7 linked regions of the Homo sapiens genome follow. The protein of the gene in region 6 purifies or fractionates together with the protein of the main gene of each other region. This does not show direct contact. Each region holds a gene or a part of one and is shown on either strand. Other genes may lie near its edges.

Evidence for each region.
Region 1: the proteins of USP40 (region 6) and LIMA1 purify together in Homo sapiens (affinity purification with mass spectrometry, with the first as the bait; one large-scale study listed by BioGRID). This does not show direct contact.
Region 2: the proteins of USP40 (region 6) and ZNF185 purify together in Homo sapiens (affinity purification with mass spectrometry, with the first as the bait; one large-scale study listed by BioGRID). This does not show direct contact.
Region 3: the proteins of USP40 (region 6) and DBN1 purify together in Homo sapiens (affinity purification with mass spectrometry, with the first as the bait; one large-scale study listed by BioGRID). This does not show direct contact.
Region 4: the proteins of USP40 (region 6) and TPM3 purify together in Homo sapiens (affinity purification with mass spectrometry, with the first as the bait; one large-scale study listed by BioGRID). This does not show direct contact.
Region 5: the proteins of USP40 (region 6) and ACTR3 purify together in Homo sapiens (affinity purification with mass spectrometry, with the first as the bait; one large-scale study listed by BioGRID). This does not show direct contact.
Region 7: the proteins of USP40 (region 6) and HDX purify together in Homo sapiens (affinity purification with mass spectrometry, with the first as the bait; one large-scale study listed by BioGRID). This does not show direct contact.

What each region holds. Positions count from the first base shown.
Region 1 is NC_000012.12:50,273,521-50,277,020, forward strand, and holds part of LIMA1 (LIM domain and actin-binding protein 1), read right to left. Parts: intron 1-3,500. UniProt on the Homo sapiens protein: Actin-binding protein involved in actin cytoskeleton regulation and dynamics. Increases the number and size of actin stress fibers and inhibits membrane ruffling. Inhibits actin filament depolymerization.
Region 2 is NC_000023.11:152,971,067-152,973,974, forward strand, and holds the end of ZNF185 (zinc finger protein 185), read left to right. Parts: intron 1-207; 3' UTR 208-2,408; downstream 2,409-2,908. UniProt on the Homo sapiens protein: May be involved in the regulation of cellular proliferation and/or differentiation.
Region 3 is NC_000005.10:177,463,635-177,467,134, forward strand, and holds part of DBN1 (drebrin), read right to left. Parts: intron 3,429-3,500; coding exon 3,277-3,428; intron 3,202-3,276; coding exon 3,138-3,201; intron 1-3,137. UniProt on the Homo sapiens protein: Actin cytoskeleton-organizing protein that plays a role in the formation of cell projections. Required for actin polymerization at immunological synapses (IS) and for the recruitment of the chemokine receptor CXCR4 to IS.
Region 4 is NC_000001.11:154,161,313-154,164,706, forward strand, and holds the end of TPM3 (tropomyosin alpha-3 chain), read right to left. Parts: 3' UTR 501-3,394; downstream 1-500. UniProt on the Homo sapiens protein: Binds to actin filaments in muscle and non-muscle cells. Plays a central role, in association with the troponin complex, in the calcium dependent regulation of vertebrate striated muscle contraction.
Region 5 is NC_000002.12:113,952,589-113,956,088, forward strand, and holds part of ACTR3 (actin-related protein 3), read left to right. Parts: intron 1-3,034; coding exon 3,035-3,118; intron 3,119-3,500. UniProt on the Homo sapiens protein: ATP-binding component of the Arp2/3 complex, a multiprotein complex that mediates actin polymerization upon stimulation by nucleation-promoting factor (NPF).
Region 6 is NC_000002.12:233,521,783-233,525,282, reverse strand, and holds part of USP40 (ubiquitin carboxyl-terminal hydrolase 40), read left to right. Parts: intron 1-720; coding exon 721-791; intron 792-1,793; coding exon 1,794-2,113; intron 2,114-3,500. UniProt on the Homo sapiens protein: May be catalytically inactive.
Region 7 is NC_000023.11:84,320,954-84,324,453, reverse strand, and holds part of HDX (highly divergent homeobox), read left to right. Parts: intron 1-2,439; coding exon 2,440-2,565; 3' UTR 2,566-3,500.

The sequences.
Region 1 (3,500 bases), on a different chromosome or scaffold from region 6:
AAAGCATTATTTTAAATAAAACTTCAAGCCAGCATTAAGAAAAAAAATGGAATTAAAAAAGACTAACCAATGAAAAGAAATAGAAATTAGAACTAATTCATTATAATGTCTGGTTCAACTAGATGTTAATAAGAAACCTTTTGTTTAAAGCTGTTGCTGAAAATCTTTCTAATCAGTACACTGTCTAAACAGTGTGTCTAAACAGTAACACATTTCAGAGCATGTGTTAATAGTAAGTATAATGAAAATCATTTCATTTTTTCTTGAAGATTCTAGATAGCTTTCTAATTTTTCTCCTAGAGAATGAAAACAGAAGAAAACTTCTGGTTGTTTGTGGATTCCAGTAATTGGGTTTTAGTTTTGCCACACTGGCTTTTGAAAATGTAATAGGAGTTGATAGACTAGTATAATCCAGAGTAACAATCTGGGAAGTAGATGGCTATAGTGGTAGGAAAATAGTGGCCTGGATCCTGGAAACACCTTAGAAAACTTGCACTCAGATGGAACTTAATCCTGGTTGTCACAGTATCCAAACTTTTGTCCTGCTACCTTCCGAACTCCTCAGAGACTGCTACCTGATTTGAACCCAGATGGACCGACCTCAGCTGTTGTCCAGTTAAAAAAAATACAACACTTTGGATTGCAAAACAAAACAAGACTTGTCCAAATGAAAAGTCCATCTTCAAGGCTTATTCATTCATTCAACAAATATTTATTTAGCATTTACCAAGTCTTTGGCAGTATTCCAAGTGCTGAAGATATAATGTTAAAAATGACAGACAAGGCCGAGCGCGATGGCTCACGCCTGTAATCCCAGCACTTTGAGAGGCCAAGGCAGGCGGATAATGAGGTCGAGAGATGCAGACCATCCTGGCCAACATGGTGAAATCCTGTCGCTACCAAAAATAAAAAATTTAGCTGGGTGTGGTGGCAGGTGCCTGGAGTCCCAGCTACTTGGGAGGCTGAAGCAGGAGACTCTTGAACCTGGGAGTTGGAGGTTGCAGTGAGTCAAGATCGTGCCATTCCACTCCACCCTGGGTGACAGAGTGAGGCTCCATCTCAAAAAAAAAAAAGACAGACATGGTCTCTACTCTCATGAAATTTCCATTCCACTGGAGAAGCCGGACAATTAAAGACTGTGATTAGTGGTGTGAAGGAAATACAAAAAGAGTAACTGGAGTTGTGGTAGGAACAGGGACACGAACAGCTTCTTTAGGCAGTGATCAGGGAAGGCCTCATTGAGTGAATGACATTTGAACTGAAACCTGAATGATGGGGAGAACATATGCAGCCAGCAAGGTGAAGACAATAGATGGGGGAGTTTTCCAGGTAGAGGAAAGCAAATGCAAAGGCCCTGAGGAAGGAATAATACAGCTAGGAAGTAAGTGAGAAGCATGCGATGACACAGAGATGAGTAGTAGTCAGATTAAATACGGATTAATAACAATGCTAAAGGATTTTAATTTTATTCTATGTGTGATACAAAGCCAAACATTATTATATAAAAGTGTGTTTGCAAGATCAGATATATTTCATGTACTAAATGAGTACTTTGGCCAGGTGCGGTGGCTCATGCCTATAATCCCAGCACTTTGGGAAGCTGAGGTGGGCAGATCACTTGAGGCCAGGAGTTCTAGACCAGCCTGGCCAACATGGTGAAACCCTGTCTCTACTAATAATACAAAAAAAAAACAAAATTAGCCAGGCGTGGTGGCGCGTGCCTGTAGTCCCAGCTACTCCGGAGGTCTGAGGCATGAGAATCACCTGAACCCAGGAGGTGGGGGTTGCAGTGAGCTGAGATTGCGCCATTGCACTCCAACCTGGGACAGAATGAAACTGTGTCTCAAAATAATAAAATAAAATGAGTTCTTAATTGTTTATATGTGCATAATGGCCACAAAATGAAAAGGAAGGGAAAGGTTCTCATACCTAAAAGGCTTGTAATCTTACAAGGAAGCAATAATTTATAAATAGTGACAACATTAAGTAAGGTAAGAAATGAAGCAAAAATCAAGTGTTAAGTATAAAGACTGGGGAGGCAGCCACTGATTCAAGTAGAAGAAATTAGAAAAGGCTTTTTTTTATTAAAAAAATTTAAAAAGGTAGCATTTGATTTGGGCTCTTAAGGAAAAGGATTTCAACAAGAGGGTGGGGAAGGGGAGGAGCATGAGGCTGTGGTAACTGCATGAGCAAAGGCACAGAGGCAGGAAAGAACTGGGCAGGTCCAGGAAACAGAGAATTATTGTAGGGTCACAGTGCCAGGTGGGTGGGTCGTGTTGTGGGAGATAAGCCTAAAAGAATAGGCTGTCAGAGTGGGGGTGTGGGTGTCTTGAAGAGCATGTCAGAAAGCTAGACTGAATTTACTTAGGCATTGTCTCCCCTTAAGTTTGTATATAAATCTCTTGAGGTACTTGATAAACTTCAGGTTCCCAGGCCCATCCCTCAGACACACTGATCTGCAGGTCTAGGTGGGACCTGAGACTCTACCTTTTTAACCACTGCCAGGTAATTCTAACACAGGCAATTAAAGGAACCATATTTTGAAAATCAGTGCTTTTTTTTTTTATGACAACTCTGATAACTTTTCTGCAAGGGAAAAACTGAAGCCAACTCTAAGGATTACTCAAGGACTCAAGGACTCTGGCAAAAAACTAAAAGGGGAATCTGAATTAGAAGACTGATTAAAGAACTCTTATCACCCCTGGGGCAGAATCAGCCAAACTTGGGGATTGATCAAATGTGGGTGGAGAAAAGTATTAAAGTGGTAAGTACAACCTCAAGCTTTCTCCTTAGTGAATCTGGGTGTACGCAGATGCATGGCGTACAGGGACTATCCACATAGCCTAACAGGTAGCTGGAAATACAGATCTGGAACTCAGATATACAAAGGCATTAAACATATTGGTTTGGTACTTCAAAGTAAGTTCAATACAAATTAAAGAATTAAATATAAAGTGTAAAACGGTAAAAATCAGAAGGAAATGAAAGTGAGTATTTAACCAATCTCTGGATGGTGAAGGCCTTCTAAACATCACAGCACCAGAAGAAATCTCAAATTTAAAAATCCAGGCTGGGTGTGGTGGCTCACGCCTGTAATTGTAACACTTTGGAAGGCCGAGGCGGGCAGATTACCTGGGTCAGGAGTTCAAGACCAGCCTGGCCAATATGGAGAAACCCTGTCTCTACTAAAAATACAAAAATTAGCTAGGCGTGGTGGCATGTGCCTGTAATCCCAGCTACTTGGGAGGCTGAGGCATGAGAATCACTTGAACCCTGGAGGAGGAGGCTAGAGTGAGCCGAGATTGTGCCACTGCACTCCAGCCTGGGTGACTGAGTGACACACTGTCTCAAAAAAAAAAAAATCTATAGATAAGTAATAATATACTATATACAAAATTAAAAGGCAAACTGGTTAAATATTTGACCACAGGACAAAAAATTAATATTCTTAGAAGAGTTTATACCAATCTCAAAGAAAAACACTAAGAATGGTTCTGTAT
Region 2 (2,908 bases), on a different chromosome or scaffold from region 6:
TTTATCACGGTGTCTGAGCACAGAGCAGAATATATCCCTTGAAGGCAGTAGCAACCAGGCTTTCCACTAGCTCCATGCTGATGGTCTTCTCTCCAGAAGACACACCTTGAGCTAGGTGGTAACTCCTGATGACTGGAGCAGTCACCCACCCTGAGGGCCTCTAGCTGATGTGTTTCCAGTCTCATGGCTACTTCTGTTTTCTTTTAGCGACCCCCCACCGCCAGGCTGATCAGAAGCTGATGACTCGTGGACAAATTTGGCTGTCCCCAGTTTTGCCCCAAGTTGCTGTCTCCCCTTCCCTCACCTCCTCCCTCCCTGTTTGATTTCTTCATGCTTTTGCCCTTCTCAAGTTGAAGTTGCATACATCCAATATCGTATCTTAATGATGCTATGATAATTGCTTGTGTGTGTAGCTTCTTGTAGCTTAGAAAGCGCTTTATGCCCATGATGTCATTTCAGGCTCAACCAAAGAGGATCAAACAGGAATTCCATCTTGGCTTCCCTAAGACAGATTGGCTTTCTAATGAGTTTAAGTGGGCAGAAGTGTAGGGTTCAGTGTGTCCTGACTCCCTTGAGGCTTATAATGGGCCAAGTTGAAGACTGTTGATGATCCCTGGTGGGTAAATTGCAGACATCAAATGCTAGGGATTGGCATAGGCTAGTGTTTAGCTTGTCTATTTGCCATATCTATTTTTTTTAAATTTCCATACACTTGTAAAAGTAGTTAGTTGCTTTTGATTGAGTTATATAGCAGTTTTTCATTTGGTCTTCCACTCACCTTTCACTATATTTGAGTGTTCCCTTACAGGTATGTTGGCATGTGTTGGAAAATTTACACAATTAGGTTTAAATTCAGTAGGATGTGATTTTAGGATGCTACTGATCAAAGTGATATCTGTGTCTGTTGGAATCTTGATAGCTGATTAATTTGCCCTCAATTCTGCTCCCTGAACTTCACACATAAATCTTCCCAAGTGGGTTTTAGGGTGTATAGATCCCAGCAGGATTAAGGAGGTGGAAAAGCAGCTAACATTTCTTGAGGCTCTACCACATAGCAGGCACTGTCACAGAGTAATGGCATTAATCCCCATAATAATCCTGTGAAGGTGATATTCTCATCCCATCTTAGACATGAGGATATTGGAACTCAGAGAGGTGGCTATTGCATTGCGCAGAACGCTACAGAGCCCATGCTCTTCCCAGAGCAGCACCCACAAAAGCAAGCATTGATTTTGTGCTCAGTGTGTGCCAAGCACTGTGCAGAGGGTACACAGTTCCTGCCAGGTTAACACCCTCCCTTCAGGCCTCCCAAAGGCATAGGCTTGCAAAGAGCAGAAGGTGTGAAATCACACTCTTCCTCTGGGCATCCTGGATCCCTGAATTATCCCCCCCCCCATGAAGTACTTCAAGGGCCAAGCTGCCCCTTTCCCTCCTCTCCGCCCATGAAAATGCCTCCAAACTGAGATGCTTTCAGCTGAGAACAGATTTGACTCACAGACATTACCAAAGAGGAGCTTGTGAATCCAGGAAAAGCTCCAGGGGGCTAGCTGATCTGAGCAGAGAGCTTTCAGTGACCCATTTTCCTGTCTAGACTCTGCCTTAAGCTAGTGGCAACTGCTGGGGCCCCAGGTACTTGGGACATGGAAACTCGTTGGATGGCTGGGCAGATGTAAGCCTGTCCATGCAGTCAGCCGATCCTCTGCTCAGGTTCAGCTGGACTCTGCCATCTGTGGGCCCAGCATCACTCTGTAAGTTCCTTGAAAGGAAGAACAACCTTAGAGTATTTCTGATACAAAATGAGGGCCTCTGCTCTTGATTTAATTATAAAATGTCTACGTCTTTCTCCAGTTTCTGAGCCCTATGCACATTGGCTTGTGGGCTTGTTCTTCCTGCCAAATGATCAGAGAGGAACATTCCATTTATTTGTAGTGGATTTCCTCTGGAGGGCATGTACCCACACTAAATACCAACTGCTCTTCCTCAGCTGTAGTCCCCAACATCAGACTTGGCACGTGGTGGACACTAACACACAGGCACTCAATGAATGAGTGAAGGAAATAAAAGTCACCCCGTTGGTGAGAGGTGCTATCCCTGAGTCTCAGTGCAGGACCAGTGGATGAAAGGCAAGGTAAAGAGGCCCAAGATAGGCTGGCTTCCCCCGTTCAAGGTATAGTCTGCCTTTAAGGGAGTTTTAGAACCAACATGCAAGACATTGAAAGAAATCTTGCAAGAGCCATTATTGACTTAGATCCAAAACAGCCTCTCTCATGTCTAAAAAGGCACAGAATTTTGCAGATCTGAGGAAGAGGGATGCATTACCTTTTTGCTTCTTTTCAATTGCTTAGTGTTTCTAATCATACTTAATCCACACTAATGTGCGCAATTATAATAAATGGTAAGATATCACATGTGTCAGTGTTAAAGTTTTCTTTTGAAGTGTAATAACTTGGTGTATTCAGCTGTGTGATTTCTTTATTCCTATTGCCTGAAGCCATTCTCTGTACAAAAGTAAACAAGTACTTAATAGCAAGCTCTAGACACTGGGCATGCACAGGAACTGTGGAATTCTAGACACATCAAATCTTAATGAAGAATATTGTATTGTGGCGGCAGAGAGCGGGGGCGGTCCATCCTTCTCATGATTACCACTGCAGACAGACAGCCACCTAGTCATTAGTGCCCACTTCCAGTGACCAGGAGCTCAGTTCCTTACAAGCCCCTGCTGTCTGTGGTTTTAGAAGATGCATTCTTCAGTTGAGTTAAAGTCCATTTCTGTATGTCACCCACTGGTGGTCTTTAATCCCTCCGCTAGATGCCAGCTCTTAAAATAGATGAAAATACTTCTCAGATTCTGTCTTGGTCAACTCTTCTCACATTTAAACACCCCTGGTCCCTCTAACTCTTCCTT
Region 3 (3,500 bases), on a different chromosome or scaffold from region 6:
GGTACCACACTGACCTGCTAGAATGTCCACTGTCACTCTCACGTGAACTATACTTGAAGGGCCAGATGGGACTATAAAATAATGGTAAGCTCCTTCAGACTTTACCTGAAATGTTGATAACTGGTGAAAATAAATCAGCTCAGGGGGTTCACAACACTATTCTGTCTACCTGCATGTGTGTATGTTTGAAATGTTAGCAAAAAAATAAACTTTATCAGGGCTGGGTGCAGTGCACTTTGGGAGGCCGAGGTGGGAGGATCACCTGAGGTCAGGAGTTTGAGACCAGCCTGGCCAACATGGTGAAACCCTGTCTCTACTAAAAATACAAACATTAGCCGGGCATGGAGCCGTGCACCTGTAATCCCAGCTACTTGGGAGGCTGAGGCAGGAGAATCGCTTGAACCCAGGAGGCAGAGGTTGCAGTGAGCTGAGATGGCGCCATTGCACTCTAGCCTGGGGGACAAGAGTGAGACTTCATCTTAAAAAAGATAAATAAATAAAAATAAATAAATAAATAAATAAACTTTATCAGGCAGGGTGCGGTGGCTCACGCCTGTAATTCCAGGACTTTGGGAGGCCGAGACAGGTGGATCACGAGGTCAGGAGTTCGAGACCAGCCTGACCAACACGGTGAAACCCTGTCTCTACTAAAAATACAAAAATTAGCTGGGCATGGTGGTGCACGCCTGTAATCCCAGCTACTCAGGAGGCTGAGGCAAGAGAATCGCTTGAACCCAGGAGGCAGAGGTTGCAGTGAGCTGAGATTGTGCCATTGCACTCCAGCCTGGGCGACAGAGCAAGACTCTGTCTCAAAAAAATAAAAATAAATAAATAAATAAACTTGGCTGGGTGAGGTGGCTCACACCTGTAATTCCAGCACTTTGGGAGGCCGAGGAGGGCAGATCATGAGGTTAAGAGATCGAGACCATCCTGGCCAACATGGTGAAACCCCATCTCTACTAAAAAGACAATAAATAAATAAATAAATAAATAAATAAATAAATAAATAAATAATAAACTTTATCTGCTGGGTGCGGTGGCTCATGCCTGTAATCCCGGCACTTTGTGAGGCCGGCGGGTGGATCACCTGAGGTCAGGAGTTCAAGATCAGCTTGGCCAACATGGTGAAACCCCATCTCTACTAAAAATACAAAAATTAGCCAGGCGTGGTGGTGGGCGCCTGTAATCCCAGCTACTTGGGAGGCTGAGGCAGGAAAATCACTTAAACCTGGGAGGCAGGCCGGGTGCAGTGGCTCACGCCTGTAATCCCAGCACTTTGGGTGGCTGAGGTGGGCAGATCATGAGGTCAGGAGATCGAGACCACCCTGGCTAACATGGTGAAACCCCGTCTCTACTAAAAATACAAAAAATTAGCCGGACGTGGTGGCGGGCACCTGTAGTCCCAGCTACTTGGAGGCTGAGGCAGGAGAATGGTGTGAACCTGGGAGGCGGAGCTGGCAGTGAGCTGAGATGGCGCCACTGCACTCCGGCCTGGGCGACAGAGCGAGATTCCGTCTCAAAAAAATTTAAAAAATAAAAAAATTTTAAAAAACCTCACTCTGAAAGGATAAATAAAATGTGGTATATCCATACAATGGAATATGATTCAGCCTTCAAAAAGAAGGAAATTCTGATGCATGCTACAACATGGATGAATCTTAAGGACATCATGCTAAGTGAAATAAGCCACACGCAAAAGGACAAACACCGTGCGATTCCACTGATAGGCAGTCTCCAGAGTAGTCAACTTCATAGAGACAGAAAGTGGAATGGTCGTTGCCAGGAGCTGGCGAGTGGGGAAGGGCAGAATTTGTGTTTAATGGATGGTGGTGGTGGTTATCCTACAATGTGAATGAATTTAATGCCGCTTAATGAAATGCAGATTTTAAAATGACTGAAATGGTACATTTTATGTATTTTGCCACAGTTACATACATGTGGCCAGGCGCGGTGGCTCACGTCTATAATCCCAGCACTTTGGGAGGCCGAGGCGGGCAGATCAACCGAGGTCAGGAGTTCAAGACCATCCTGGCCAACATGGTGAAACCCAGTCTCTACAAAAACACAAAAATTAGCTAGGCATGATGGTGTGCGCCTGTAATCCCAGCTACTCAGGAGGCTGAGGCGGGAGAATCGCTTGAACCTGGGAGATGGAGGTTGCAGTGAGCCAAGATCACGCCATTGCATTCTACCCTGGGCGACAGAGTGAGACTCCATCTCAAAAAAAAAAAAAAAAAATACATGAATCAACTTATGAAAAAAAGATCTTACCCAGCTCGTTCTCCACCATGTTCTTTATGTGGCAGGTGGCAGGTGTGTGTTGAATGAATGACTGAGGATGGAGCTTACCAGCCACACATCATCCCCACCCCATCCAAGGGCAGATGTGACTGGAGTGACTTAATGCTGCTGCCTGCAGGACTGTCTTGCCTCCTCTCTCTCAGCCTCCTGTGGGTGACTCCGGAGCCCGTTTGAGTCCCCACAGCCATGCATCTGCCCATTACAGTCCCAATCCAGATGAGTATCAACCCACCTCCCTTCCTGAACTGAGCCATGCTCAGTCCTGAATGACATTAGCTATTTCCAAAATACTAAATTCAAAGCATGGAGATGTGACTCTGCTGTGATTCTCAGGGACCAATCCACAGGACCTACGGGCCATTCCCAATGTGTGGAGATTCAGACAGTACCCCTGGAACAAAGGGGCTGCTCCCAGGGAGATGCTGCTCCCAAGGAGATGGTACACACTGCCTGCAGATGCTCAGCACTGGCCCAGGCTCACCCATGCCGCCTGCCTCACTCCTGTGGCCCCTCAGAGTGCAGAACAGTGTCTAATCGCCGAGAAACCCCAGGGCAGGGGAGGGGGAGCCTGGTCAGTGAGGGTCTGGGTCTAGATGGAGTTTCTCTTCCAATCTAGAGCACAAGCTTCTCCAAAGTAGTCTTTTTCCACGGCCAGAGGCCAGAGCCCCACGTGATGAGGTGCCAGGCCTCATGCTCCATGGCACCCTGTGCCCATGCAGCTCCCCAGAACAGCCACCACTGTCCCTGAGCCACTGATCTCCCCACAAGGCCCAGGAACACAGGGACCATTCTCACTTCCCTGACCCAGAGACCGGGAGCCTTGGCAAAGAACTTACAAAGATAGACTGCTCCTTCAACCGCCTCTTGGCCTCTTCCGCTTCTAAAGTCTGCTGTTTCCTCCTGGAACGATAAGCAGCCAGCACCCGTCAGGGTGCGCCCGGGGGCCCCTGGAGCGCTCCGGGCGGGCAGGCTCACCTGTGCTCCTCGATCTGCTGCTCCCGCTCCCGGTAGCGCCGCTCGCGCTCCTCTTGCTCCTGCCGCTCCTGCTCCATCCGCTCCTGCTCGAACCTGAGCCTCTCATCCAGGGCCTTCTTCCGCTCCTCCTCCTTCCGCAGCTCTTCTTCCTTCTGCAAGCCCCGGTGCGAACAAGGGTAGGCCCCGAGCCTAGGCGCCTGGACCCTGCCCCTCCAGCCCCTCCC
Region 4 (3,394 bases), on a different chromosome or scaffold from region 6:
CTCTCAAATTTCCTGTGATGTTACATTACATATAGATCTCGTGAACAGCCTGAATTTAGATAATACCTATAACCAAGTTAGTTTGTGTGATTCTCACTTGGGAAAGAAGGATGTTATCAGGATCCTTTTTTTTTTTTTTTTTTTTTGAGTTTCACTCTTGTTGCCCAGGTTGGAGTGCAATGGTACGATTTTGGTTCACTGCAACCTCCACCTCCCAGGTTCAAGCGATTCTCTCGCCTCAGCCTCCTGAGTAGCTGGGATTACAGGCACCCACCACCACGCCCAGGTAATTTTTGCATTTTTTTTTTTTAGTAGAGATGGGGTTTCACCATATTGGCCAGGCTGGTCTTGAACTCCTGACCTCAGGTGATCTGCCCGCCTCCCAAAGTGCTGGGATTACAGGCATGAGCCACCGCACCCAGCCGCGTTATCAGGATCTTTATCCCTCAAAGCAGCCTGGTCAATTCTTTTCCATTTAGGGAAGAAATAAAGAGACAGAGAAGGAGTGAGAGCATTTTATTGCCTGACTAAATCACAGAACACAGAGTTTCCTAGGAATTGCATGAGGTCAGAAAGACAAATGCAGCTGTTCTCTCACTTTGAACTTAGTTTCTAACTCTGCTATCTCTAGTTATTAAAAATTAAGACCAGTACTAGCTCCTTAAAGTTTTTGGTTCCCTGATAATAGCTAAAACAAAACAAACGAAAAGGCAAGGCAGAGAACCTATTTGGTCTAGCGTTCTTTTCAGCTATATCTAATTAAGAAACAACCCCATGGCCAGGTGCAGTGGCTCAAGTCTGTAACCCCAGCACTTTGGAAGGCCGAGGCGGGCAGATCACGAGGTCAGGAGTTTGAGATCAGCCTAACATGTTGAAACCTAGTCTCTACTAAAAACACAAAAATTAGCCGGGCTTGGTTGCACGTGCCTGTAATCCCAGCTATTCAGGAGGCTGAGGCAGGAGGATCACTTAAACCCAGGAGGCGGAGCTTGCAGTGAGCCAAGATCACACCACCGCACTCCAGCCTGGGCAACAGAGCAAGACTCCGTCTCAAAAAAAAAAAAAAAAAAAAACACAAACCAACCCCATGGAGTTGGATAGTATTCAACCAACACCATGTGAAAGGAAGAGATTTGGTTGGGGCTAAGATAAAGCTGCCAAACAGAATAGGTCTAAGATAAAGCTGCCAAACAGAATAGGTCAGTTGTACCTATCAGATAACTTGGGGTTACTACATCTTATTCCTTATCTCAATGATGGTAACAAGGAAGGGCAAAATGGGCCTGTGGTTCTTAGAAATTAAGAGGGGGTAACATTAAGGGGACAAATGTTTTACTCTGATGCTTGACTTCACCCCAATACTAGTCCAGGCTCAAGTAACACAGGATGGCTTCTGCAAGGATATTAAGCCTTAAACAAAGGAATGAATTTAGCATTAGCACTAATTACATAGTACTTCATTGTCCACTTTGGTACCCCAGTTTGTTGGTCTCTATCCTTGGCTCACACTAGTCATACCGCAAGGAAAACAGGAGATACCACAGATCAGAGCTATAACACCTTACTTTTCTCCCAATCTCCCTCTTATTTCCTTCTTTTTTTTCTCTCCTGCCTCAGCCTCTCGAGTAGTTGGGACTACAGGCATGTGCCACCATGTCCAGCTAATTTTTGTATTTTTAGTAGAGACAGGTTTTCACCACGTTGGCCAGGATGGTCTTGATCTCTTGACCTTGTGATCCACCTGCCTCGGCTTCCCAAAGTGTTGGGATTACAGGCATGAGCCACCATGCCCGGTCTACTTCCTTCCTTTCTAAGAAGTCTTTCTTCATGTCAAAGCCAACTTCTGCCCAGGATCTGAATATTTAGAAATGCATTGTCCAATATAATAGCCACTAGCCACAGGTAGCCAAATTTAAATGAACTACAATGAAATACAATTAAATTTTAGCCCCTCAGCCACACTAGCCATGTTTTGAGTGCTTGACTGCCACATGTGGCTAATGTACTAGACATCATTACCAAAAGTTCTGTTGGAAAGCCCTGCTCTAAAGTAAATTATATTGCCTATATAATCTTCCTACCAATACACTCTTTTGCCCCTGAAAATGACTCCTCCTCTTCACTTCTTAACACTCAAAATGTACCCTCAAATTACTAAAGTATCAATGCATGTCCCATTTTCAGTTATCTTCCTTCTTAGCCTCTCTGTTGAAAAACCACTAGAAAGCATCCAACCCGGAACTTTTTAAAGAACTACTCAACCGTCTTCTTTCCCTCCAATCAGTTCCATTTGGTTCCTCCTCTTACATAACGTTTTCCTCATTGTTTAATTTTTTTTTGAGACAGAGTCTTGCTCTGTCACCCAGGCTGGAATGCCGTGGCACAATCTCAGCTCACTACAAGCTCCGCCTCCCGGGTTCACGCCATTCTCCTGCCTCAGCCTCCCAAGTAGTTGGGACTACAGGTGCCCGCAACCACGCCCAGCTAATTTTTTGTATTTTTAGTAGAGACGGGGTTTCAACGTGTCAGCCAGGATGGTCTTGATCTCCTGACCTCGTGATCCGCCCACCTCGGCCTCCCAAAGTGCTGGGATTACAGGCGTGAGCCACCGTGCCTGGCCTCTTTTTTTTGTATTTGCAATTGTCCTTCATGGTTCTAATTTACCTCCATGGCATAAACTACCTGTACCCCATATGGATTCCCAACTCTCTTATGTCAACCTCTCTGCCTCACGCCCTAGAATTTTGTTTTCACCCAGATACCTGCCAGATTGTCAGCCGTATCTTCTTTCCCTTCCCCCAGCTCCCCAAACCAGGACAACATGATCTCCCTACATCTTTAACCCCACCACTTTCCTACTCTTTTTTTGGGGGGGGTCTCATTCTGCCACCCAGGATGGAGTGCAGCAGTGTGATCACAGCTTGCTGCAGCCTCAGACTCCTGGGCTCAAAGGATCCTCTGGCTTCGGCCCTCCAAGTAGATAGGACTGCAGGCACGCACCACCATGTTTGGCTAAGTTTTTATATTTTGTAGAGACAGGTTCTCACTTTATTGCCAGGCTGGTCTCGAACTCCTGGATTCAAGAAATCCTCTCACCTCAGCCTCCTAAAGTGCAGGGATTACAGGCATGAGCCACTGCACCCGGCTAATTCTCCTACTCTAAAAACCAGTCATCCTTGTCTTTCCTCCTCACATCAAGTGGCCAGGCCTTTCACAATGCCTGTCTTTATTTAGTGCTATCTCTCCTGCCACTACTCTAGCTCAGACCCTGATTATTCTCTCCTAGAAAACTAAATTAACCTAACCCAATTTTTTCCAAAGTGTGGTGTATTCACTGCTATAGTTACTTTAATGTGATTAGGAAAAAACACTAACACATCAAAACTTTGATTTC
Region 5 (3,500 bases), about 120 Mb from region 6:
AAAGTAAAGCACAGCACTCTAGGGTTTGCTGATTGTTGAGAAATTGCATGATGGCTGACTGTTGTCAGTGCCTATATTTTGATTATCTTGAGTAAACCTATCCCTAGGAATGCAGTAAAAAGTATATGTTTTGGGTGGAAGGCAAAATATTGAACTCTGTCCCTATAATGTCATGACTTCACACTTCAGGAAGTCTACTCAATAGACTTTTAAAATGTTGTGTTTGCTTTTGCATCCCCTTCCCAACCAACCAAACCACCAGCCCACCCCCATTCATCCATTCATTTGCCCATCCGTCTACTCCCCTTACCCACATATCTATCTACCCTACCTCCTACCTAAAAAAGAAGTCATTGGGTTTTGCAAGTATAAATTCTCTGTACTGAGAATCCTACTAACCACATTGATTATGTGAATGAACATAGTGCATGTTCTGGTTTTTTTGTTAGAATACTTAAAAGATTGAAGTTGATTGTCCTAATGGTATGGTTATGGATGTATTAAAGTAGCTGTTTAGTTTTTAATAACTCATTACAGATATATAAGTACAAAACAATGCTGTATGTTTCTGAGTATAGTATTTTAAAAAAGTGAGATTGTTTAACATTTTTAAGCTCTTTTTACACTTGTAAATAAGAAATAAATTTACCCAGTGATCAGTACCGTATCGACATATTGAAAGAAACAGATTGGGTGTCCCTTTTTTGAATTGCTTCATACCAGAAGTGTTGCAGGTTTTGAGTTTTTCTGGATTTTGGAGTATTTGCATTATATACTGGTTCAACATCCTTAATCCAAAAATCTGAAATTCTGAGCATTTCCTTTGAACATCATGTTGGTGCTCAAAAAGTTTTTGGATCTTGGAGCATTTTGGATTTTCAGACTTGGGATGCTCATCATGTATAGGAAAAACCTTGTGTTTTGGAGGACTCTGCCTTCTTCACCTTAGTTTTACTTGCTAGTAACTTTTATAGATCTTAATAGCATGCCTTTATCTATCTATCTCTGGCTTTATTTTCCTTCAGTCTGTAATTTTTAATGGCAACCAAACAGTTTTGAAAAAAGCCATATCATTCTGTTTCTATAAATAGGTGTGTGTACACACACACACACACTAAATTGTAGATATGATGGTTCATTATCCCCAAACATTTTAGTATATTTCTAAAATCAAGAACATATTACAATTATCAAAATCATGAAATTAACCTTGATCCAGTGTTATCTAGTTATAGAACTGATTCTAATTTTACCGGTTGTTTCACTAATGTCCCTTATAACAAAAGGAAAACAAAATACCTTCTTCCCCCTTATCCAGGATCCAATCAAGGATTGCATGTTTCATTTACTTATTGTGTTGCTTCAGTCTGTTACATACTCAATGTTTTTTGTCTTTCATGAATGAATGTGACATTTTTGAAGAGTACAGCCATTTATTTTGTAGCATATCCTTCAGCTTGGGTTTGTTTAATATTTCTGCTTGAGTAGGTTCAGATTATGTACTTTTGGCAGTGATGCCACAGAATTGATATTGTATCATTTTTAGTGCATTGTATCAGTAGACACATGATAGAATTTGTCCTGTGTGTGAATTTTGAGCTTTTGGTTGAAGTTGTGTCTGCCAGGTTTTTTCACTATAAAGTTATTATGTTTTCCTTTATATTTAATAAGAATCTAATGAGGAGACACTTTCAGACTATCCTGTTTCTCTTTTAAGTTTCAGTCACTAGTTTTTAGCATCCATTGTGATTCTTCCCTAAAACAGTTATTACTGTGGTAGTTGCTAAATGGAGTTTTGCAATTTCTGTCATTCCTTCTATGTTTTTAAGACTTGTTTTACTATAAGCAAGAGTTTTCCCTTCTCCCACATTCATTTATTCTTTTAGTAATATCTATATGAACTCCTGATTTCTCATTTTGTGGTCTATATCTTTAATATCACTGTAATATCATAATATCAGTAATACCACTCATCATTAATTTTAATCCCACATTTTTTTTTTTTTCAGATTTGACCAGTGGGAGTTATTCAAATGGCTCTTAGGTTTTTTTTTTTGATGCAGCCACATCTTTTTTTTTGCCTACTTCTGTACTTCCCGGCACAGCAAGGTGTTTCAGGCTGATCTTGTACTTTCTCTTTTCTGGCCCTGGAATCAGCCCTTTTTTTCTCCTTTTCTTTCTTCAAGACACCCTTGTCTTATTCCTGTTAGTGGAGAACGTTACTAAGAAACCAAGCTTTGTGCTCATTGCTGTTGGGGTATCACTGAGTCTAGGCCTTCTCAGTGATTAGAGCTAGGGGTGTGTGTGTGTTTATACATCTATATCTAATTCTCTACATAAATTAAAACCATGAATTTTTACAGACGTCTCCAGTTATAGAAGGTTCACTCTAGTTTTCTGCCCTTCCATATTGTAATGCCCTTCTCTGACAGTGAGAAACCTGGCTCCTATTATCTATAATATGTTTATGTTTTTGCTTAATCCTGGAATATGTATATGATAGTTTCAGAATTGTTAATCCACACCACTGTGAAAAATAGACCCAAAACTAGAATTCAATATTTGCTTATATTTTATCTTCAGCCTGAAGGCTTATAAGATTCAAAATACTATGCTCACAAGTTGCTTGTGTTAGTCCCTTTCCTCACCTTAGTGTGCTTATGTTTGAAAAAAGTACAATTAGTTTAATTTGTTTTTGTTGTACTTTGTTTTGCCCCAACCTCCCCTTCTTTTAAGGTGTTATTTTTTAGTATGTAAAACACTAACATTTAGATTCTTAAAGTCAGAACTGTATAAAACATGTGCTCATTGTTATTTCCCTTCCATTTATTCTGCTCTGTTCCCTCCCTGTCTCTTCCACAGTGTTCCCAACCCCTTTCCTCTGAGACAGCCAATCTCAATTGTTTCTGGTTTGTAAGATACCACCTGAATTTAGTACAGATATTATTTTTGTATATGTACATTTAAGGTTAAATGACACAGAAGTTGTTATTTGAATTTACTATGAAGATGATCATACTATGTCTTTCTTTAGCCAAAACCTATTGATGTACAAGTCATTACACACCACATGCAGCGATATGCAGTTTGGTTTGGAGGATCAATGCTGGCTTCCACGGTGAGTGTGATGAAGCTTACTTTTATTTTATTTTATCATTATTATTTTATTTATTTTTGAGGTGGACTTTCGCTCTTGTCACCCAGGCTGGAGTGCAATGGCATGATCTTGGCTCACTGCAACCTCCACCTCCTGGGTTAAAGTGATTCTCCTGCCTCAGCCTCCCAAGTAGCTGGGACTACAGGCATGCGTCACCACACCTGGCTAATTTTGCATTTTTAGCAGAGACTGGGTTTCATCATGTTGGCTAGGTTACTCTTGAACTCCTGACCTTGGGATCTGCCCACCTTGGCCTCCCAAAGCAAAGTGTTGGGTTTACAGGTGTGAGCCACTGCTCCTGGCCTTTATTATTATTATTATTTTTTATTGAGATGAGGTCTTA
Region 6 (3,500 bases):
AAATTCTTCTAACATGGAAACATTTTATTTTTTCTGAAATTAAGGCTACCTCTACTAAAATTTCTTGAAAAGCTTTAGAATTTTTTATATTGACACATATTGTTGAACAACATAGTTTCAAACCATCTGAATCATATTTATGTGACTTGATTTTCTGCCCAGTTCTCAGCTTCAGATTTTGTAGTAAAACAAGAAATACTTTGAGAGTTTGAAAGCATTTACTTCCTTTAAATAGCAGGAAAACAATGAGAATTAACAGTAGCGGCAGTAACATCTAATTTGGGCCAAAATCTGTAATAGGTGTTTTATGTTAATTATCTCACTTGATTTTCATAAAATTCTTTTATCTCCATTTCATAAATGAGAAAACTGAAGCTGAGAGACTTGAAGCACACAATACAGCTTGTGTTATGGACATATCGGTGGAGTTGGGACCATTCCATGCTTAAGCCTAACTCCTGTTTCCAATGTCATGTGCCTCAAGTACACTTGACCTTTGGATTATCTCTCTTGTCCTGCCACCATGCTCACAAGCTTTTGTCACAACGTTTTAAAGAAAAATTACAATGAAATAATGTCAATAGAATAAAAATAATTACTACTTTTTAAATTTTCCTTAGTGAAAATACTTTTTCAAACAAATATTTGTCTCAGCTCTTTCTTTAGCTCAGTTGTTTCTGATGGTCATGATGAATGGTCTCACTGGTGATCTCTTTCTAGGGGATGAACTGACACTGTGTGAAACTGAAATTGCTGATGGGGAAGACATCTTTGTGTGGAATGGGGTGGAGGTAAAAAAAATTACTGAAGAAATATTCGTGATAATTTTGGATGTTTTAAAAGTCATCGTAATGGCCGGGCATGGTGGCTCATGCCTGTAATCCCAGCACTTTGGGAGGGCGAGGCAGGCAGATCACCTGAGGTCAGGAATTCAAGACCAGCCTGGCCATCATAGTGAAGCCCCATCTCTATTAAAAATACAAAAATTAGCTAGGCATGGTAGCGTATGCCTGTAATCCCAGTGACTTGGGAGGCTGAGGCAGGCGAATCGCTTGAACCCGGAAAGTGGAGGTTGCTGTGAGCTGAGATTACACCACTGCACTCCAGCCTGGGTGACAGGGCAAGACTCCATCTCAAAAAAAAAGTCATTGTAATGAAATTTTATTCAGCCTATGTGAGGGCAATTAGATATTAGAAAACTACTGAAATGCTTGATAAATGTTAGGGACAATCAGTGCTAGTTGTACGCCAAGGAGACATTTCTTGAGCGCCTCCGTTATACCAGGTTGTGCGTCAGATGCTAGATCAAAGGCCAGTCAGTTGATCTGTGTCCTTTTAGGCCCTCGTCGTGTGAAGAACTGCACCATACGTGCTGGAGTAGGGGGTCTGTGCATAGTGCCTGTGGGAATTTAGAAGAGTGAGAATCTATACTGAGTTGGGGAGTGGGGGTGGTTTGGAGGTAGAGAGTGAATTTTCTATCTCTAGAAGGCGGCCAGGAGCACTTCAGCCACTCTGTGAACTGACCTTGGCCAATCTGGCTTCATCACCACCCATGATAACTCATAAATGTCTATCTCCAGTCTATCATAGATTTCTCCTAAAAAAATAAAAGATAAGAAAGTTTCAAAAGAAAAATCTGAAGTTGTTCCTCTGATGCTTAACAGACATTTGTGAAAATTTTATTTTACTTGGAAAAAATGAGGGTTGTTCTCTAAGAGTAATCTTTTACCATGTTATGTTGACGGTGTTGGCAAATATCAGCTGTACTAATGGTTGTCTTGGTATGATTGCAGGTTGGTGGAGTCCACATTCAAACTGGTATTGACTGCGAACCTCTACTTTTAAATGTTCTTCATCTAGACACAAGCAGTGATGGAGAAAAGTGTTGTCAGGTGATAGAATCTCCACATGTCTTTCCAGCTAATGCAGAAGTGGGCACTGTCCTCACAGCCTTAGCAATCCCAGCAGGTGTCATCTTCATCAACAGTGCTGGATGTCCAGGTGGGGAGGGTTGGACGGCCATCCCCAAGGAAGACATGAGGAAGACGTTCAGGGAGCAAGGGCTCAGAAATGGAAGCTCAATTTTAATTCAGGATTCTCATGATGATAACAGGTAACTCGCTAACAAGAGAAAAAGGATTTCTAAAAGTCATTTTAATTACAGTACCACCCAGCAGAACTCTAAAGCTTTATTTTAGTGACAAGAGTTGAATGTTTCTTTATTTCTAGACATTATGTTCTAAATATTGCATACAGGAATGTTTTAGGTTATGTAACTTAGAGAAAAACATGATTTTTTGTAAAGGGACTTTTTGGTAAATGTGGTGAGAAAATAATATAAGTATCCCTGATTTTCTAGACTGTATAGAGTATCAATTAGTTGGCTGTAATGCAAAAGTTATCAAGTGAATTCTGATTAGTGCCAGTTATAAAACCGAAGGAAATTCTCACAGAGAAAACTGAAAATTTTCCTGAAGAAGGTATTAACATTATGGCTAAATTGTTTCTGGATATTTTGTTTCAGGAGACCCATAAGACAACTCATTGTTTCCTTATAATCCGTTCTGTGACTCTTGAGAACCCAGTTGCCCAAATAGAGCAGTTACGTGGCGAATTACCCCCATGAATCCTGTGGTCACATTTAAAGCTGCATCTCTTTGTCATCTATGTCTGTGACAGTACATTGCTGTAGTCAATGTGTCATACACTGTAACTGCAATATTTCCATATATTGAAGACTTCAAGCTCCCTGTTTTCTCAGTGCTACAGATTTACTTAGATTGCAGGATGTCTGTATCATTATTTATAGTGGCTTTGATGCAGAGAAGCAGAGCACTTGTGGACCGTTTCTTTCGTAGTACACTTACCACTATTACTCTTTTGGACAGGGGTTTTGCAGACATTCCCTACCTTGTTTATAAGAACTGTATTTCCTTTATAAAAGGCAGTATGCATTTATTGGGACTGGGGAAATACAAAAGTGAAGACAGAAGGGACCCAAAACAGTATCCGTCTTCTCAGCATGCAGTGTTAATCACTGTTAGCATTTGGGTGCCTTTCTTTTTAAACCTAATAATGATTATTTTGTAGATAAGTAGTTGTATCCTGCTTTCCATTACCCCTGCCCAACCTTGAGATTTGTAGACTCTTTATAAACTGCCTTGAATGGCTACATAGTAATCTATGTGACATTATAGTTTGCCTAACTGTGCTCCTAGGCAAGTCAGTAGGCTGTAGTGGGACCTTGGGCAAGGTATTTCGTCTTTCTCTGCTCAGTCTTCTTGTCTGTCAAATAGGGATAATAACTAGTGCCAACTTCATAGACTTGAGAGGATTGAAAGAGTTGAGTGCTTACAAAGTACACACAGTAAGTGCTAAATGTTTTAGTTAATATATTACGGTCATTGTCATAATTATCATACAGTTTTTCACTATTTTAAAGTAGTCTTCATGGAGCATCTTGTGCTTCATACTTTGTTTTATTTGGGATTGCTAGCTTA
Region 7 (3,500 bases), on a different chromosome or scaffold from region 6:
AGAATATGGTCACAAAATATAGAAGACACGAATAGTAGTCCAAAAAAGTTATCTAGGTAATCGCTTAAACTACTGATCTTTACATCATGAAATATTTATAGGTTTATTTCTGGAAGGAGTTAATTTTTATTCTACCTAATAAAAGACAACCACATGTCACTGGTTTTTAATTTTAAAAAAGATCTTCAGTTTTCTTCCATTAATCTTGATTTGTGTAAGTTGAGTCAGATGTGTGGTCCACAGAATATTTTGGACCATTGAAGTAGTCCAGGGTTTACAAAATGTGATACTCTCTGACTGAAACACTAGATTACCCAAAGATTTTGTTGTTGTTGTTATTTAAATCAATAGCCACTTTAAAATCAAAGTAATATTTTCAGCATTATACTTAGTCATTTGCTATGGTCTTGCTTCCCCTGATAATTCACTGCGTGTTCCTAGCCAGATCAATTGCGTTTCTTGAACTTCAATTTCTCCACTTTGCAAGTGGGATAAGAATGATTAATACTACAGAACTTGATATTCATACCATAGGGTCTAGAATAAGTGTTATAGATCTGAGCATATGGAAAATGCTTTAATCTCTTGGGAAAAATGACCGTAGGTCAGACCCTGAGGATAGTTGTCATTTATGAAACATTTGTAATAAAGAAAGTTAATCGTATTCACGTTAGTATCTGTGAAAAAGGCAGTTCCAACAATTGTTATAATCCAAAGATTTTTTTCAGTTGCAAATCTAGTAAGATATTGAAAGAAGAATTTTAAAGTGGACCACATGTATTAGTTGTGCCCTATGCTGCCTCAGATATTAAAATTTTTATATTTTTTACTGCACTCATTTTACTCAACTACTTATAATGCAGTAACAAAGAAATAAATAATAATGCTTCTTTGATTTGTAATCTCCCCACTAGAAATTAGAAATTAGAATATCATGAAATCTTATTCTCTTGACTTTCTGACTCTAAGAACATGTTCAGTCAATGTTAATTTGAACACTTTCTCCTCTTTAATATGGCATCTTCAGAATTGCAAAGCGAGTTAAATCCAGTGATGTATGTCATATAGACTGATCAGCCAATGTCAGAAAAGACCCCATTGCACTGGGACTGGGTTAGTGGTAAAACACTTTTCTAGGAGAAAATGGCTCCGTGTCCTATTACTGCAATCTAGCCACTTAGAAAGCAGGCATTACCTTTAAGTTAGTTTACTGTGTATATACTCTCAGTTCCAGCAATAAATTAATGAGAAATTCAATTTTATAAAATAAATAATAACAGCTAGTCTGCCAGATAGGGGTTAGTCTTCCCTTACATAGCCTGATAAAAATGAGAATGTTTTGATCTTGCCCCTGTGCTACAAGGCAGGAAGTATAGGATTTGCAGCTGCCACTTATTTTAATAAAGAGAATGAGTGCATACTGTCTTATTTCAACAGTGGATTTCATATATTCTCCAACATGCCCTTTCTGTTCCTTAATTGGCTAGTGACAAGCTTTCATTTCTTCCTGTTCCCTTGGTCTTTATTTACCACTGCACCCAAAGCCCACATTACAAGTAATACTGTCTAAAAATTGCCAGATATGCTACATTATTCTTAGTATTGGAAGCAGCAAATCAATCATTAAGTTCAAAGTTCCTCATGGTCAAGTGAACATTAGCATTGTCAGCTGCGTAAAACTTGATTAATCATTTATTTCTTTAGAATGGGTGCATGTTCTACAACTTCAGATAAAACAATTAGACCATGACAAAGCTTATTTCATCATTATTGGATTATCCTTATTACTCAAGCAGAGAAATGAGTAGCCCTCCAGATACATCATTACTACAGATAGATCCACTGATTCAGCTGTGCCCTGGTGGGTGCTTGGCCATCTGTAGGTATGAACATAGCCTTAGGAAAGAAAAAATAAAATTACTTGGTCTTTTCAAGTTGTTAAAATTTAGTCTAAAGTAAAATAGCTGGAGGTTTTTCCTAACTACTAAGTTCTTTCTCCCACTGAAGAACAAAATAGTCTTTTGTTAAATGCAGTCTTCTACAAAGGACAGCATAACTGGCATGAATATTTTAACAAAGAACGCAATTTTAAATCCCTTAAACAGTGATCAATGCACACTCAAAACTAGTATGAAAATCACTAACCTCAAACACTTCAAAGCACTTGGTTCAGAAGAGTTGCTCATTTCCCTCCTAATATCCCCTTTGTACAGGTTCTACTCTACAGAATTCACACTTTCAACATCTAGAATTTTGTTACCTTCTGAATAATGTATGAAGAATTTTTCTTTTAGGTAAGGCATTGTCTAAGATCCTGAAATATAAATTATTCTTTAAATCCATAAGGATAATTCACCATGGGAGGACTACAACTATTAATATAAATTGGAAAACAATCTATCCACATACTAATCCAAAAATATTATTTTTTTTATTCAGGCACTGCTGTCAGATTTACCTCCTGAATTAGAGGAAATGGATTTCAATCATGCCTCACTGGAGCCTGATGATACCTCATTCAGTGTATCTTCTTTGTCAGAGAAAAATGTCTCAGAAAGTTTGTGATTTCAGTTGGAGGGAATATATGATACAGTCTTTTGGCTTCGTAACAGGTGTGCATTTCAAGATAACTGCATTCTGTTGCCCTGGTATTCTTTAGTTGGGAAAACACATTGTTGAAACGGACGTATTCTGTGAAGAATGTACAAGATATAATGGCTACAGTGCAACAAAAATGTAGGTGAAATTTAAAAGCATTGTTTGAGAGAGTATTTTTTTAACTGATGGAACTCTGGAAAAAAATTATATTTAAGTTTCAGCAGTTTAACCCTGAAATTCATTATGTCTAATTTCTAACCAGAGACAAAATAACTAAAGACATTTCAGCATTGCTTATCAAGTTGCTACAGCTTGATTAGTCTTGTTTTTGTAGCCATTACATCTTCTTTCTTCTTCTCTCCTTTTCCTATCATCCACTTACACTTTTTCTCAGGAAAGTGGACTGAACATTTAAAACAAAACTTTAAAAAATTATTTAACTCATTATTTAATGAGTTCTCTGATTTAGTTTTTAACCCCTATGAAAATTTGACTTAAACTAATGACTGAAAATTAAATGATTACAGGTATGTAATTGTAAATTGCTGGTGTTCTTCTATTATCTAACCCAAATATTTGTGTGGGGGTGGGGAAGCACAATGGAAAGGTAATTTAACCAACATAACGTCAAATAAATTACGAAGTGTACAGAAACAAAATGTTGTCAAAATTAGTCTTGATGGGGATTCTTCATTACTACAAATGACAAGTATTGATACGATTGACATTCCAGTAGTAAATTTGTATACCTGGGTTAGATGAAGTGTTACACAAATATTTTAAATTTATCACCATCTTTATAATTCTTTTTTAGTTCTTACATGTTATGAAACAGGAAGTCAAGGTAAGCTGCTGAGATTTTTTAAAAATTTAGTCATTCAGCTTTGCCACAAAATTTACCT